Linked DNA regions of Homo sapiens: regions 1 and 3 are each linked to region 2. The links come from fine-mapping of genetic effects on gene expression. A gene starts in region 2. Each other region holds a variant in brackets. All regions are shown on one strand. Distances are between the middles of the regions.

Region 1 (2,807 bases), 39 kb before region 2:
AGAGCAAGGGAGGTTCCATTGAAGAGAAGAGAAACACAGTGGCTCCTGACAGGTCTGAAACCTGCTTTCTGACCTGGGGCGGGTGGGTGATCAGATGGACCCTCAGGAGTGCTGCCAGGCGAGCCAACACCCTGCTGCTCATGTGTCTGTGTGTCTGCCTCAGCTTCTCTGGGCTTTCCATCTCTTAAGGGCTATTTGTTTCCTCTCATCTAACTGAGCTACTCCATCCCTCTTCATGGCTGGGCTGCAAGGAAGTGGCCATCTTTCTGAATCTGCTGCTTCACTGAACTAGGCACTATTTATTGAGTGTCAGGCAGCATGCTGGGCTCTTGGCTTACTTTTTTTGTTTGCTTGTTTTGTTTTGTTTTTTTTTTGAGACCCAGGCTGGAGTTTAGTGGCACGATCTCGGTTCACTGCAACCTCTGCCTGCCAGGTTCAAGCGACTCTTGTGCTTCAGCCTCCTGAGTAGCTGAGACTACAGGTGCGAACCACCACGCCCAGCTAATTTTTGCATTTTTAGTAGAGGCAGGGTTTTGCCATGTTGGCCAAGCTGATCTCCAACTCCTGACCTCAGGTGATCTGCCTGCCTTGGCCTCCCAAAGTGCTGGGATTACGGGTGTGAGCCACCATGCCTGGCCTCTTGGCTTACATTTTTACCAGTCCTGCAATATTGCAGTGGCTAAGGCCGTGGGCATTGGAGCCAAACAAATCTCCATAAAAATCCTTGGTCACCTCTTAGTACGTGTGTAACGTTGGACAGCTATCTTAACCTCTCTGGGTTTCTGTATTTTTGAATAAGAAAATAGTGGTATGAATATTCCACCTCATAAAGTTTTATGAGATTAAAAATAAGTGTGTATAGAAGGCACTGAACTTTAGCTATGAATAAAGTCCTTTCAACCCCCCACAAGACAGATATTACTCTCTCTGTTCTCCAGATGAGGTGGCATCTGAGGTCAGGTGCTTTGTCCAAGGCTGCAGAGTTAATAGTGGTAAGAGCCAGGATCTCAAACTGGTTCCATC[T/C]GGTTCAGATCCTGTACTCTCTCCTCACTCCACCTTGCTGACTGATCATCTGTGACTAACATGTTTCTGTGTTCAGTCGAAGTCCACTTGTCAAATTCTCTGCCTTGTGGCCCTGACCTGCCACATTTTCTACTTTTCACTTGTGATTTGCTTTGATCTGGACTCTCTGGTTATACATGGGCTGGAATCAAAGATGTTGGAGGGTGATGAAGGTAGACTCTCCTCACGTAGCTGACTGGTGAAATGCAGAATCCAGTCTATCATAAATGTCAGAAAATTGCTGAGGCAATTGTAGCACTAGCTTTGGAAAAAGTCACTGTGTGACCTCAGACAAGTCTCTGCACTTCTCTGGGCCTTGTTTGTCAAATGAGAAGTTTACAAAAGCTCCAATATCTTTTCTATACCAACATTTCGTTAGTATTTCCAGTCTTTCCCCCTTATTGTTTTTCTTAGCTGGAAAGAGAATAATTGACCTGAGATCATGTCTTAATCAGGAAACAAGGTGCAAGAATAATGCCTGCCATCATTTAAACATACAGCCATATGCATTATTTAATTCCCATACAAGCTTTCTATGATATAATGTTCATGTCATTGATAAGTTAATTTCTCAGATTTGTGTTAAATTTCCTTTCTCATATAATTCAACTTCGGGCAGAATTGAAGGGGACCTTAATGAGCTCAGAAAATGCAGCTTGAACTCAAATTTTAGAAGCTTACAGAACACAAAAAATCCATTTACCATTGCATATGCCCAAATTTTCCCAAATTACTCGAATTTGAGTTTAGTGAGGGCAAACCTCCAGTATGCTGTAGAAACGGTGGCCATCCCAACAGATCATCCCATTCTAAAACCCTGCACGTCCTGTGCCAAGTTTTTCTTGCCTTCCAACAACTTGACTTGCTTCCCTAATTATAAGCAAAAAAAAAAAAAACAAAAGAAAAAGCATTAATAAGACATAGTTCTCATATGATTTCTCAAGTTTCTAAAAGACAGTTGTCTTGAACATAAACTTTCTGGGAAAGGGAGATGTTCTCCATAGGGAGACAAGTTGCAAGCACCCAACTTTGGGATTTTATTTTTAAAATTATTTGCCGGGAGAAGTAGACTTATTATGTATGTTTTTCTTGTTGTAATTGTCATTTGGACAAAGTGAACTTTCATTCTTCCCAGAAAGCTTCTGCTTTAAGTATAGTCAAGTCAGTATTTTTTGAGAACTAATTAGTGTCGGAGAGTGTGAGGCACTGGAATCCAGGATGAATAAGGCCGTCCCCTACCTTCTAGGAAAGCATCACTGACTATAGCGTATTGCATGTAAACAACCATGATACAGTGTGGTCACTGGCAACATGTTACGGACAAGTCGGAAATACATTCTGTCTAAGGAAGTCAGATTGGATAACAGAGGAGGTGAGATTGAATCTCAAAGGATGAATAGGAGTTTAACAGTTTTGCCTGTTTAGGTACTTAAAGAGAACTTGAGAAGAATGATTCATTCAAGGGCTACTGTCTAACAGTAATATGCTAAACTGTAATTAATAATAGACACTATCACTTACTAAATGTTTACTTTCTAGGCACAAGCATTATCTCATTGAATTATCAGGCTACCCTAAGAAGCAGGTACCATTATCCCCACTTTATGGAAGTGCCAACTGAGGCACAGAGTTAACGTAGCTTGCTTAAGATCTCATGCACAGTGGCAGACCTGAGATTCAAACTCTGTCAGTCTGATTCTAGACCCATCTCTCAAACACCATGTCTTGGCAGCATTCTTATTATT
Region 2 (2,500 bases):
ACAGAGCAAGACTCCATCTCAAAAAAACTATTTTATTGAAACATAGAGAAAAGAACACAAATTATCAGTGTATAGGTCAACGCATTACCACAAAGTGAACGCACTTGAGTAACCATAAACCAGGTAAAAAAATACAGCCTAAGAATCCCCTATTGTGTTCCCTTGCCTCTTTAGAAGTAAGTTTTTTATGGTGTTGACAGTACAGTTTCTCCATTTTTCCTTCCAGAACTTATTCTTGGGACCATGTTGCTCTCATTCTCACTGTTACTTTTCCCCTCTTCTCTTTTTCCTTCTTAGAACAAAACAAAATACTATTGACTAGCAGTGGTCATTCTCTTCACTCTAACCTGAAAGTCAATAAATTGAGTAGAAAGGACTGATGGGGGCCAAAAGGGCTGAACCTCCACCACATTTGTGCTGTAAGAAAACATGACATGGTTGCCTAGGCTCCACAGGTTTTTTAAACTCTCATCTCACACAAACTCCATGATACAGGCAAGATTCTTGTAATTTCATAGACAAGGAAACAGAGGCTCAGCAGCTTGATCAGCACTTCTGAAACCAACCCTTTGCCAGGTGTAGAGTCTTCGTCTAGGCCAGGACCTGTCACTTCAGTGTATAAAGGAAGTTCTCATCAAGGTGGTTGATGGCCGCAGTCCCCTTTAAGAAGTAGAAAGTGTGGTGCGGCTTCCCAGAAAAAACACAGAGGAACACAAAAAGTGCATATCACTTTGGAGGTTTCCCACGGCCGGCGAACCACTGGTACCTATGGACAGCCCCCAGCTGCTGCAGTGACTGAGGGATAAAACAGCCATCCATCTCTGCGCGCAAGCCCATTACCAAAGATAGTATTGCCAATGGTAGTATTGTTAGTGCAGTTCAACTGCAGGACAGACTGAACGTCCTTAGAAGCAGCCTGTGTGTGTGTGTGTGTGTGTGTGTGTGTGTGTGTGTGTGTGTGTGTGTGCACCGCAGGACGCCCTCCTTTCCCGCGGAGCTGTCACAAAGGACTGTACTTGGCATCCTCACTCCTCACTTCCCAGGATCACGGACTCCACAAAGTTCTGGTGCCCGTTTCTCCGGGACCACTGCCAGCTGAGCATACAGCTCCGGCCAGGAGGGCGCCAGCGGCCCCGGGAGCCAGGGAGACCAAGGAACACTCGCATTCATTTGTACACCCCGGCTCCCCCCAAACGCGCACGGCCCTTGGCGGGCTTGGCCAGGGCACGTGGTGGGCGGCGGGGGCACAGCGGCGCCTGGGGACGCGCGTGTGTGCGCACCGAGAGGGCGCCTGGCCGACGGCGCCCACCTCTCTCGTGGCTTTGGTGGCTCCAGGCCTGGTAGGGCCGGGGCCGCGGCTCGGGCAGTGCCCTCCCTACTCCTGGCCGGGCCGGGAGCAGCGGGAGCAGGCGCAGCGCCCCTACCGCCCGCTTTTCCGCCTCCATCTCCTCCGCCTCCTCCTCCTCCTTCCCCCAACCACCCGCGCAGTCACAACCGGTTCAGACTGGCCGGGGTGCCCCGCAAAGAGAGACAAGGGAGAAAAAGACAGCAGGGAAAACCCCGGGGAGGAGAAGGCGAAAGAGAAGGTGGAGCTCAGAGAAGGGGGCCGGCTCCCCAGCTCCATGTGGCCGCCGCCGCTGCGGGTCTGTGGGGGCAGAGGGCGGCGGCTCCCGGGGCAGCGCGTAGCGGGACCGATTGCCTAATACTCCGGCAGGGGCCGGGGCCGCAGCTGGCTCGGATAAATAGCCGCCCGGCTGGCCCGGAGCTGCAGGGGAGAGCGGCGGCCGCGATCCCCACCACACCACCAGCCCGGCCGCACGGGGCACTGAGCCGGGTGCTGAGCACCGGAGGCCCCGCCGAGGCCGGGACTCAGGTAAAGGGCTGGAGCTTGCGGGGAGGGTTCCAAAGGTGGGCAGCAGCCCCTGCTGCCCAGCGTCCTAGAGGCAAGAAGTAACTCCGACTCGGAGCAGTAGGAGGGGGCGGTGGAGCAGCATGGAACCGGGCTTTTGTCTGGGGTGTGTGCCGGGGGCTTCGAGTGTCCACGGTGCGCCCGCCCCTCGCCGCCCCCTTTTTGATGGGGTGCTTCTACAAAGTGGGCAAGTTTTCCCGGGAATCCGAAGGCGGCATTTTGTACGGAGTTGAAAGAGAGGGAGGGGGTCCTGGGGGTGGTACGGTGGCCCCCCAGAGAGCTGCCTCTGGACTCCAGAGAGCTTCCAGGGTTGCTGGTGGAAGAGCAGGGAGAGGTGCATGTGATGCAGGTGGGCCTCCATTTCCCAGAGGACCGAAAGGCCTCCAACTGCCTTGGTCCGGAGCGCGAGCAACCAGGTGCCCCCGGAGGGTTGGGAATGGGGCGCCGCGGGTACTCCTGACCTACGTGGAGCGCAGCGCGCAGGGCCGGCGGATTCTGCACGTTGGCGCCAGGTTCAGCACCACCCGGCAGCCCTGGGCGAGCGCGGGAGCCCAGCCTTCGCCACCGCCGCAGGAGGCACCGGCACCGCGC
Region 3 (2,500 bases), 24 kb after region 2:
CCATTCCTTGGCCTCCTGAAGTTCTGGCATTACAGGCATGAGCCACTGTGCCCAGCCCAAAGCTTTAAATAAAGTAAACACCATTTGGTTACCAACACTAGTAGAAATCAAAAACAAAAATAGACAAATTTTGCCTATGAAGTAAAAAATTCCTCCGCCAAAATAGACTAACATAGTCAAAACAATGCATGAACCAAGGAAATTTAATCCAATAATTCATGGATGCTTCAGTAGTAGAAAACATATATTTTATCATATTAAGAGTTATAAAGGGAAAATTGTATGACCATCTTCCTATACACTGGAAATACATTGATAAAATGTAATAACAATTATTTATAATAACACTCAAAAATATAAAAATGCAAATTACTTTCTTAACTTCGTAAAAGAAATCCAACAAAGCACCAGAGGCAACATCATGGTATTTGAGGGCATTCCCACTAAAGTTAAGAACAAGACAAAAATGTATACTTTTGTTAATTGGTATTATTCTGTATGTACTGTTCAATGCAAAGACAAAAGAAGGAAATTAGGGGCCAGGCACGGTGGCTCATGCCTGTAATCCTGGCACTTTGGGAGGCTGAGATGGGTGAAACACCTGAGGTCAGGGGTTCAAGACCAGCCTGGCCAACATGGTGAAACCCCGTCTCTACTAAAAATACAAAAAATTAGCTGGGCATGGTGGTGCCTGTAATCCCAGCTATTCAGGAGGCTGAGGCAGGAGAATCGCTTGAACCTAGGAGGCGGAGGTTGCTGTGGGCCGAGATTGTGCCATTGCACTCCAGCCTGGGCAGCAAGAGCGAAACTTTGATTAATCAGCCTATGTGCCTGACACTGGTCTTGCAGTACAACTGGAAACCAAAGCAAGGTGGAGGATGTCCTGAATTAAGATGTTTTCATCTCATTGTGTAACAGAGACAGCCAATAAATCTACCATTTGATTTTA[T/A]AAAAAAGGAAATTGGAAGTATAAAAATTTAAGACATATAAGGAGATAAAAAATTGTAACTGTAGGTGACTATATGACTGTATTGCATTGTGCATTGTATATACCCAAGAAAATCATCTGAAAATCCACCACAAATAGGAGAATTTTGTAAGGAAGTGGGATGTAAAATTAACATACAGACATCAATAGCTTTTAAGCATACAAACAGAAGACAAATAAATGACCCCAATTACAATATTAGCAGCGAGGATAAAATCTATAAAAATACAATACAATGAAATATTGAGGAACATTTTAAACACTAAGAACATAGATGGAGACTTGAACAAATGCAAAACATATTATGTTCTTAGAATGAGTTGACATCATAAAAGGTCAATTCTCCTTACATCAATTTTTAAATTTAACTCAGTCCTAATGAAAGCATCATCTGATTTCTTTTTGAACCAGACAGGCTGATTCTGAAGTTCATATAGAACAGAAAACATGAATAGCTACAAAATATTTCAAAAGGAGTGTAATTATAAAGACAGAAAAAGCCCCATTAGAGATTAAAATATGGTAAAAGGACTTTTATAAAAAAGATTCTGTGATGAAACAAATGTGGTAATGATGTGTGAATAGACAGACCAATGGAACAGAATAGAATATCCATATACACCTAAGAATTAGGAATTTCAGCTGGCTTTTCATCTCCAAAACGGTACACGACATTTATACTGTAAGAAATGCAAGTTGAGTGAGCCGAGATTGCGCCACTGCACTCCAGCCTGGGCGACAGAGCAAAACTCCATCTCAAAAAAAAAAAAAAAAAAGAAAGAAATGCAAGTTGAAACTATGATGAAATGCTATTTTAAAACCAAGAAATTTGCAAAAATCCAAAAGTTTCACAACACATTCAAAATCCTGGAGACAATATGAATTAGCTCAATGCTCTTGAACTTAATTTGGTAATACCTGGCCTCAATGATCCTCCCAACTCAGCTTTTTCAATATTTTCTGAAATTACAATTACAAATGTATATTCCTTTTGACTCAGCAATTCCTCTTTTGGATTTTACCTAACAAATATGCCTATAAGCAAAAAGATATATGAATATGTAAGGTTTTTCACTGCACATTGTTTTCCATTAAAGCCACAGGGACTGGTCGAACAAACTAAGATAAAGTCCCATACTGGAATACAGTGCAGAAGTAAGAAATGAATAAGGAAGGTCAGTATGCATTGATGTGGAAGATCTTCCAGATATTTGTCAAGTGAAAGAGAACAAGGCACATACCAATGTATATAATATGCTATTTTTTTGTGTGTAAAAAATAAGGGAAATCTATACTTGAGTTTGCCAGTGTATGCATAAAGAAACTTTAGAAGGCTATACAAGAAACAAGATGCATTGGTTACCTGTGGAGGAGATAAGGCTTAGATGGGAAATAGGTAGACAGGGGACTGTTTATCTTTTGTCTTTTTTTCATTATGAACCATGCAAGTGTTTTTGCCTATTCAGTGAGTAAATAAATAAGCAAGCATACAGCCATATGTATACATCCTAT

Alleles and levels. Alleles are on the strand shown, and positions count from the first base shown. SD is a standard deviation of normalised expression in the study named.
For the expression in cerebellar hemisphere of the gene that starts at base 1,502 in region 2, C is the low allele of the variant in region 1 and T is the other (moderate effect, 0.74 SD a copy in GTEx).
For the expression in thyroid of the gene that starts at base 1,502 in region 2, T is the high allele of the variant in region 3 and A is the other (small effect, 0.23 SD a copy in GTEx).

Evidence for each region.
Region 1: its variant is fine-mapped to the expression of SLC16A9 in cerebellar hemisphere (GTEx, PIP 0.98).
Region 3: its variant is fine-mapped to the expression of SLC16A9 in thyroid (GTEx, PIP above 0.99).

The regions. Positions count from the first base shown.
Region 1 is chr10:59,747,243-59,750,049 of GRCh38, reverse strand. The region is part of intron 1 of MRLN (myoregulin); the gene reads left to right. Among named protein-coding and RNA genes, the nearest start is that of MRLN, 4.8 kb to the left of the region's middle. The variant T/C (reference allele first, on the strand shown) is at 1,024.
Region 2 is chr10:59,708,852-59,711,351 of GRCh38, reverse strand. It overlaps SLC16A9 (solute carrier family 16 member 9), which reads left to right and starts at 1,502. Exons shown (of 6, transcript NM_194298.3): 1 at 1,502-1,873. RefSeq lists silencers at 1,160-1,429, 1,660-1,729, 1,870-1,929 and an enhancer at 2,160-2,359.
Region 3 is chr10:59,685,242-59,687,741 of GRCh38, reverse strand. The region is part of intron 1 of SLC16A9 (solute carrier family 16 member 9); the gene reads left to right. Among named protein-coding and RNA genes, the nearest start is that of SLC16A9, 23 kb to the left of the region's middle. The variant T/A (reference allele first, on the strand shown) is at 950.